Linked DNA regions of Homo sapiens. The protein of the gene in region 2 interacts with the protein of the main gene of each other region in a pairwise test. Each region holds a gene or a part of one and is shown on either strand. Other genes may lie near its edges.

The links. The genes of interacting proteins can lie anywhere in the genome.
Region 1: the proteins of MIPOL1 (region 2) and STMN3 interact in binary tests that used the Homo sapiens proteins (3 or more experiments, as listed by UniProt).

Annotation. Positions count from the first base shown.
Region 1 is NC_000020.11:63,639,212-63,643,424, forward strand, and holds the end of STMN3 (stathmin-3), read right to left. Parts: intron 3,089-4,213; coding exon 2,897-3,088; intron 2,187-2,896; coding exon 2,127-2,186; 3' UTR 501-2,126; downstream 1-500. UniProt on the Homo sapiens protein: Exhibits microtubule-destabilizing activity, which is antagonized by STAT3.
Region 2 is NC_000014.9:37,267,437-37,270,936, reverse strand, and holds part of MIPOL1 (mirror-image polydactyly gene 1 protein), read right to left. Parts: intron 2,280-3,500; coding exon 2,144-2,279; intron 518-2,143; coding exon 412-517; intron 1-411.

The sequences.
Region 1 (4,213 bases), on a different chromosome or scaffold from region 2:
GAATGGGGTGAGTGGGGTGAGTCCACAGAACAGTGGGGTGCAGCCCCAGGGGTCTCGTAGCACCTGCCCCCATGTCAGGAAGTCCCACAGCCTAGAGGCTCCAGCCTCAGATGCATACATATGTAGGCCCTGCCCTTTCCTCCTGAGCGGCGGGCCACAGAGTCCTGAACAACAGGAAGCCCCTGAGGAGGGCTCCGCCCTGAGGGAGGGCAGGGGAGCCCCCGCCAGCCCCACCCACAGCAGCGGGCCCTGCCACCCCCCACCCTGACACCTCACCCCTTGGATTCCAGAGAGGAAAGTGGGCTTGTGTGTAGTTTACATGCTCATATCTTAAAATCACTGTTGTCAATAGAACAATTCATAATCATGATGATAAAATAAGATTTATAACCAGCTTCAGTCTGGAGATACACACAGAGCAGATCTTCACTCCCAGACAGGGAGCCCGCAGCTGCCCCCGACCCCACAGGTGCAGGACACACACAGACAGTTCAACCATGTCTTAAACACACAGGTGTTTATTTAATTGTTCATTTGATTGAATTTTTAAGTTCACTTTACTACGTGGATGAGATGGGTGCATATTACAGTAGGCTTTCGCTATGAGCGCTGCCACCATGAGGAATATCCCAGCCCTCAGTTCTGCTTCCCTTTCTGAGTCCCACAAAAGCCAGATGTGGACAGCCTTGGGTTCCCATCCCAGCTGGCTGCTCCTTCTGGGGCTGTCTTGGTGGGGAGAGGGAGATGGGGCAGTGGGTCCCTGCTGACCCCTGAGCCCTGCAGGGGTCAGGATCCTCCCGTGGTCCCTGGGTGTGACTCTGGAAGACACTGGCAGTGCCCGGCCAAGGCCTCCCGCAGGATGGAAGTTGAGGGCCCTGGCTCTGGGTCCTAAGAGAACTCAGCCGCCCCCTTCACACTTTACAGCAAGGGGCCAGGCAGCAGCTTTGGGATGGGGCTTCCGTGGAGAAGTGGGGGATGCTGCAGTGGTACAAAGACAGCCTCCCCCACCGCCATCCTCCAGCTGACCGTCCTCCAAGGCCAGCACTGGGCGTCCAAGGGAAAGAAGGAACTCAGCCCAGAGGGTGTGGGCAGGAGAGGCCTGGAGTCAGGCCTCCACCCACAGCCCCCTCTGGGTGCCAAGTGGGAAGGGTGTTGGGGCTGGCTTGGGAACCTTACCCGCTGCCCTTCCAACACCTGGATCTGTGGGCAGCGGTCCCACAAAATCCCCCTTGGGGCTCCCTGAGGAGGACTTGTGGCTGCCGCTTCCACCAGGGCAGAGGGCACAGGAGGGGCCAGCACTCCAAAGGGCTCTAGGGTGGGTCTTTCAAGGACATCTGCAAAGCCCTGGTGGGGAGGGGCCTGGGCCAGAGGCTCTTTGGAACTCTTGCACTTCTGAGTGGGGGACTGTCCATGCTGCCCACAACCTCTAGACCATGCAGCCTGCTCATGGGTCCCTGGCAGAGAATGCCCACTCCCCAGCAGACTCAGGGCAGGCCCCCAACTGCAGGCTTCCAGGAAGGCCCAGGGTGTCCACCTCACGCCAGGTGGTCTCAGAGGACCCCTGTGCAACCACATTAAGGAAAGCTGCAGCCCCCACCCACCCGCCTGCCAGTTCAACAAGCACCGGCTGCACACGCAGGCTCCCAGGCACCATCACCCCCCTCCCCCGTCGCCCCTCCCTCATGGGGAGCCCCTTCCCCCTGGAAAGACAGCAGGTACTGTAGCCTCGCCTGCTGGCCAGGGGCGCCGGCTCAGAGGACCTGCCCTGACCTGCACGTGCTGACCAGACAGCCCAGCGTAAGGACCCGTGATCCCACGCCACCGCCCTGGGTTTACCACGGTCACCGCCACCTCTCTCACAGGGCCCCCGGGGGACCCAGCCGCGCCCGGCCTGGTGTCTGCACCGAGGGACCGCGTCTCACGCCCGGCGGCTCCTGCAGGGGAAGCCGTGGTCAGCGACTCACCACGAGGACAGGGCAGGGCGGCTGAGTGCGGAAGAGAAGCATGAAGCTGGGGGCGGGGGTGGGGGAGGAGGAACAAAAGTTGCATCTAGACAGAGGTGAACGAAACAAAACCAAAACCCGAACGTGTTCTGTCGCAGGATGGGCGCCGCCCGTCCCGGGCCCTTAGCCCGACATCTCTTCTCGCTGCTCCTTGTTCCTGCGCACCTCGGCCGCGTGCAGCTCCTGCAGGACAGGGGGCGGGAGGGCCTGAGGGCGGGGGTGGCTTGGGGCGACTCCGGGAACCCCCAGGCGCGCAGGCCGTGGCGCCCTGGCACCCGCCCGGCCTCATCCGGGCTGGCCTTCGGCAGGACCCTGACTGAGTTGAGGGGGCGGGAGCACCGGGGAGGCGCAGAGCAAGGCCAGGGACCAAGGACGGGTTTCCTGGGAGCTGGCTGGGCCCCGCTTCTAGCTCGTACCGGAGCCGAGCTTCCTTCAGGGCACTTTCAATATAATGAATTTAGCCATCTATTACTGCGGCTAGTTACTGTCCCGCCAGGACCAGACTCTGGACCTGCCTCGTGCGCTGCTGGGGACGCCCAGTAAACACGGGAGGAGCCCCCGACCCCCACCCCAGCTCAGCGCCTCGGAGTCCCCGGCCCCGCTCTGCGCCCCTCCGAGCTCCGCCCTAGCCCCGCCCCCGCCCAGTGCCCCGCCCCCTGCCTGCTGCTAGCCCTGCCCCCGCCCCGGCCCCTGCCCGCTCCGAGCTCCGCCCCGGCCCCGCCCCGGCCCCTGCCCGCTCCGAGCTCCGCCCTGGCCCCGCCCCCGCCCAGTGCCCCGCCCCCTGACTGCTGCTAGCCCTGCCCCCGCCCCGGCCCCTGCCCGCTCCGAGCTTCGCCCCGGCCCCGCCCCGGCCCCTGCCCGCTCCGAGCTCCGCCCCGGCCCCGCCCCCGCACCTTCTCGCGCAGCCGCTCGCGCAGTGCGGCCAGGTGTGCCTCGCGGATCTCCTTGCTGAGCTCCATCTTGTAGTTGAGCTTCTCCTCCGCCTGGCGGCTGAAGTTGTTATTCTCCTCCAGCGCCTTGTGCAGCACCTCGCGCTCGTGCTCGCGCCGCTCCGCCAGCTGCTTCAGCACCTGCGCCTCCTGCGTCTGTGCGGGGCCGGCGGGCGCGCGTGAGCGGCAACCCCGGGCCCTGCCCGGCCGGACTCCTCCCTGCTCTCCGCCTCCCGCCCAGCGCCCGCTCGCCTCACCTGGCGCCTCCACCTGCCCAGGCCTCGGTGGGCGCCGGGACCCCCGGGCGCTGCCCTGGGAACCCTCGCCTGCCATCCGGCCTGTGGTCGGGGCAGGGCCAGGGGGTCGCGATCCGCCGCCCCCGCCCCCGTCCCTGCCTCGCGCGCGGGTCCCGCGGTCCTGGCTGCGCCCAGGGCCCCCGCCATACCCTGCCGCCACTGCACACCCTGCCCTGCGCGTCTGCCCCTCCAAGGACCAGCAGCAAGAAACCCTAAACTTGTGGGCGGTCTCTGAGCTTTGTCTCTTCCTCGGACATCCGCCCACTGAGCAGAGTAGCTGCTTGTTACACACCGGGTTCCCAGCTCCCAATTAGGTGCCCAGGAGCGGAGGGTCCCCAGGGATGCTGGGGGAGGGGCCGGCTGGTGACCCCTGGGAGGAGAGCGGGGCAGCAGGACCCGCACCCACATGCCAGTCCCTACTAGTCAGCCCTGTGAACCCTGGTCTCTGGCCTCACCGGGAAGGGAACGGAGCCGCTTCCCCTGCCCAATGCGTTGGCCTCCAGGGTGGCACCCCCAAAAGGACATTTTTATCTCTGTTTCAGTCTCAGAGGGGCTGGTGGGAGGGGAGGCTGCAGGGAGGGGACCTGGAGCCCACACCCACCTCTCCCAGGGCCCCTCCGCCCTCCAGCAAGCCTCAGGGTCTTCACACATGAGGCCCTTCCTCCAGCTTCCCTGTCTGGGAGAGGGATGCCCCACCCGACGTCCCCAGGGCCCATCTGGGGACCACCCCCTAGCATCCTGCTGGCCCTGACAAGGGTGCCTCCCACCCTCACCAGAGGCTCCTGCTCCTTCCAGGTGGCCGCCTCGGAACCCTTCCTCCTCTCCATCCCTTTCTTTTTTTGTTCTTGTTTGTTTTTTGAAATGGAGTCTCACCCTGTCGCCCGGGCTGAGGAGTGCAGTGGCGCAGTCTCGGCTCACTGCATCCTCCACTTCTTGGGTTCAAGCAATTCCCCTGCCTCAGACTCCCTAGTAGGTGGGATTACAG
Region 2 (3,500 bases):
TGAATATGTGACTATCTTCATACAAAGGAGAAGTATTTCCTCTCAACGAGCTAAAACAATAAGTGGTATTTGAACTGCTGGTTGAAAGGTAGAGGCACTGGTAATCATTATTTCCCCTTGTTTGTTCAGCCCCTTCCAACAAAACAAACAACCTTTTTGTGATTGGATTGACATGGTGTTAACAATGCATTTAATGCCCAAATCAGTATGAATACAGGTAAAGCTCTCACTAATACCAGTACCAGGATGTTAAAGCCACCTATTTTCTAAGCAGCCAAAAAAAAAAAAAAAAAAAGGAGAGCTTCCCCTCCTTTGGCAAATAAGCCAGTATGCTAGTATTCACCAAGATACATCATATAATAACCTTGTGTGTGATTCTTCAAGCCATGTGTTAATACTCCTCTACTATACCTGCTGTCTTTTCAGCAATTTTAGCTTCTGTTTCTTTCTCTTGGAGTTCCAGCTTAAACTTTAGTTTTCTCTGTTCTTTATCTTCTTTAGCCAATTTCTGCTGAAGCTAAAGCACATTGAAAAAAATCATGGATTCTTATTTGACAAATGTCTTGCAAAAATATAATTAATTTCAAAGTTTTTGGTTTTTTCTTAATTCTTATATTATATTTAACTTCCTAGATAGATAACTCCAGAAAAAAATTTAAAATTTAAGTTATTTATAAAGTAATAATTACCTGTAGTTATACAGAAATTGTAAAAACATCCCAATATACACTTAATTTATGTGTATATGTGCATGAACAGGCAAATTAAATTCAGAGGACCAACATTATTCTTAAAAATAACTACTGCAGTTCAGATGTGGTTGCTCACGCCTGTAATCCCAGCCCTTTGGGAGGCCGAGGTGGGCAGATCACCTGAGGTCAGGAGTTTGAGACCAGCCTGGCCAACATGATGAAACCCCGTCTCTACTAAAAATACAAAAAATTAGCTAGGTGTGGTGGCGGGCACCTGTAATCCCAGCTACTCGAGAGGCTGAGGCAGGAGAATTGCTTGAACCCAGGAGGCGGAGATTGCAGTGGGCTGAGATCGCGCCATTGAACTCCAGCCTGGGCAACAAGAGTGAAACTCCATCTCAAAAAAAATAATAATAATAATGACTACTGCAAAAGCAGTCTCATTCATCCTTTTTTCTTAATGCAAAATATTTGGAAGGGATTTGCCTAATAAAATAACAGATAGCACTGCTTTACAGTTTATCTTAGTAAATCCAATATTCTGAAACAAAATTAAGACAATAATCTTAATATCTGATACAAATCTCCCTTTGAGAATACTACCCCATCATATTCCATTTAAATTGACACTGACACCTGACTCATAAGTGGCATGTAATAAATAACTGCTAAATGAAAGTACAGAAAACATCTCATACAGAATCCCTCCACATGTTTTTTTAATTCCTCCCTAGGTTTTTGTCATTTTAGTTGTTTTCCTCCAAACATGATCAACATTCCTAACATCATGCTTCAGTTTGATTAGGTTACACAACTAGAATATTAAAATCAGAGCAGTATGTAGAGGTTAAAAAAAAAAGAAGACACAGAAAATGCACATTATTTAATAAAATTATTTAATGATCACATGACTATAACTAGAATAAGAGTCAGAACAGAAGATAAAACATAACGTGACAAATTGGACTGGACAAAATGCAGCAGTATAAGATTAACACAAGGTAAATGACAATATTGCCAAGCCTTGCTACTGAAATGTTTAATTACATGTATTATTGAGGTCAAATATAGGGCATGGATACTAATAAAGAAAAAAAAATTAAGATAGTAACATGAAACCAGTGCATTCTATCTCCCATTCTCTATAATACTGAAGCAGAGTTTTACTAAAACTTGAATCTTTTTTTTTAAAGATATGTATACAAGGAACCAGGGGCTTATGAAAAAGGAAGTGCTAATGTGGACCAGCAAGGTATGAAATCAAAAAAATGCTTTCATTTTCAACCCCTTAACTCAACCATACCCTGATGGCAAGGTATGGCAAAAACATAAAGCTACTGTTAAATGATTAAAGTGCAAAATAAAACTGAATTATGATGGGCAACAAAGGAAATTTAGAAGATCAACAGCTAAACCCATACTATACAATTATCAGACTTTCCATATTATACCTTTTTATTGCTTGTTCTGAGAATATCCAATTCTTTTAGAAGAAATGCTATTGTCTTCTCTTTATCTGAGTCTGAAGTAACTTGACAAGGAGTCATACATTCATAATGCATATCATTATGTCTATGTTCCATAACGCTGTAATAAAGAAACTGATTAACATTTCAGAGTAAGATAAACTAATTTTTTGACATTTTGTATGCTACTTGAGAACAGTATCAACTTGTAAGCAAACACCATAAAGGAAGGGAAAGGAAAAGAGATGGGCTGTTTTTTTGAAGGCCTTATATTAAATTTGTAAGCACAGGTAAATTTTGGAGTCACTAAGAAGAAATTTAGTGACGGCTGGGACAGTCAGTGCAGCTCTATTTACCACGTACATCTCCTGTTGTAATTATGCTAGATATCTCATAATCTGACTTTAGCCCAATCTCTACTATTTACTTTACCCATGTGGTTATAAAATGTTTATCCCTACTTCATTCTTCTGTGCTTCTACTCCTCAAAAGGGACTCCAACCTACACCTTAGTAAGAATCTGAAAAAGGGATGGGAACATATCAATACATCTATTTCATTATATGTTACTATCTATTAACATATCTACTGAATAATTTGAAAGTAGAATAAAAGTTCCTATGCAAAAATCTGTTAAAAATAGTATGCTGCAAAATATTATTTTGTCTAGACTGAAAATATATTAGTCACTGAAACTTCTTTTTAAATCTAATAATATTTTTCTAGCACATGACTAATTATCAAAGTTCCTTAATCTCATGGGTAGAAGTATCAGGTATCACAAATTCAAATCCTTTCATGAGCTAGGTAGGCAAGGTTACTGGGTAAAAGCTGAGAAAGTAAAATAATGAGGAATGCAAATGGTAGAGAACAAGGCCCTTTTAAAAGCATCAAATTCATTTAAATGAAAAATAGCGCTAACCCAAACCAAAATGCATGTTTGGGCTTACCTTGTCCTGGAGCTGCCAGTTTTTTACTTTCATGAATGATATGTCATGTATATCAATTTAACAGTTATTTCCAAATACATAAAGAAAGGTCACAGAAAATAATATTGAATAAAATAGAATTAAACCTGTCTTTCTTCAGATGCACTTTGTGCTTTTTCACTTAGTTAACTAGACATATTATATCCATACCATGGAAACAGTAGAAAACCCTGGTAGATTCGCCAAGTTCTAATAAGTTTAGAATTAGCCAACACCAAAAAGAAAGAAGGAAAGAGGAAGAAAGGGAAGAAGGGAGGGAGAAAAAGTTCTTCCAATTCTAACTTTCTCTTTTTTTTTTTTTCTTCAGACAATCTTGCTCTGTTGCCTAGGCTGGAGTACAGTGGCACAATCTC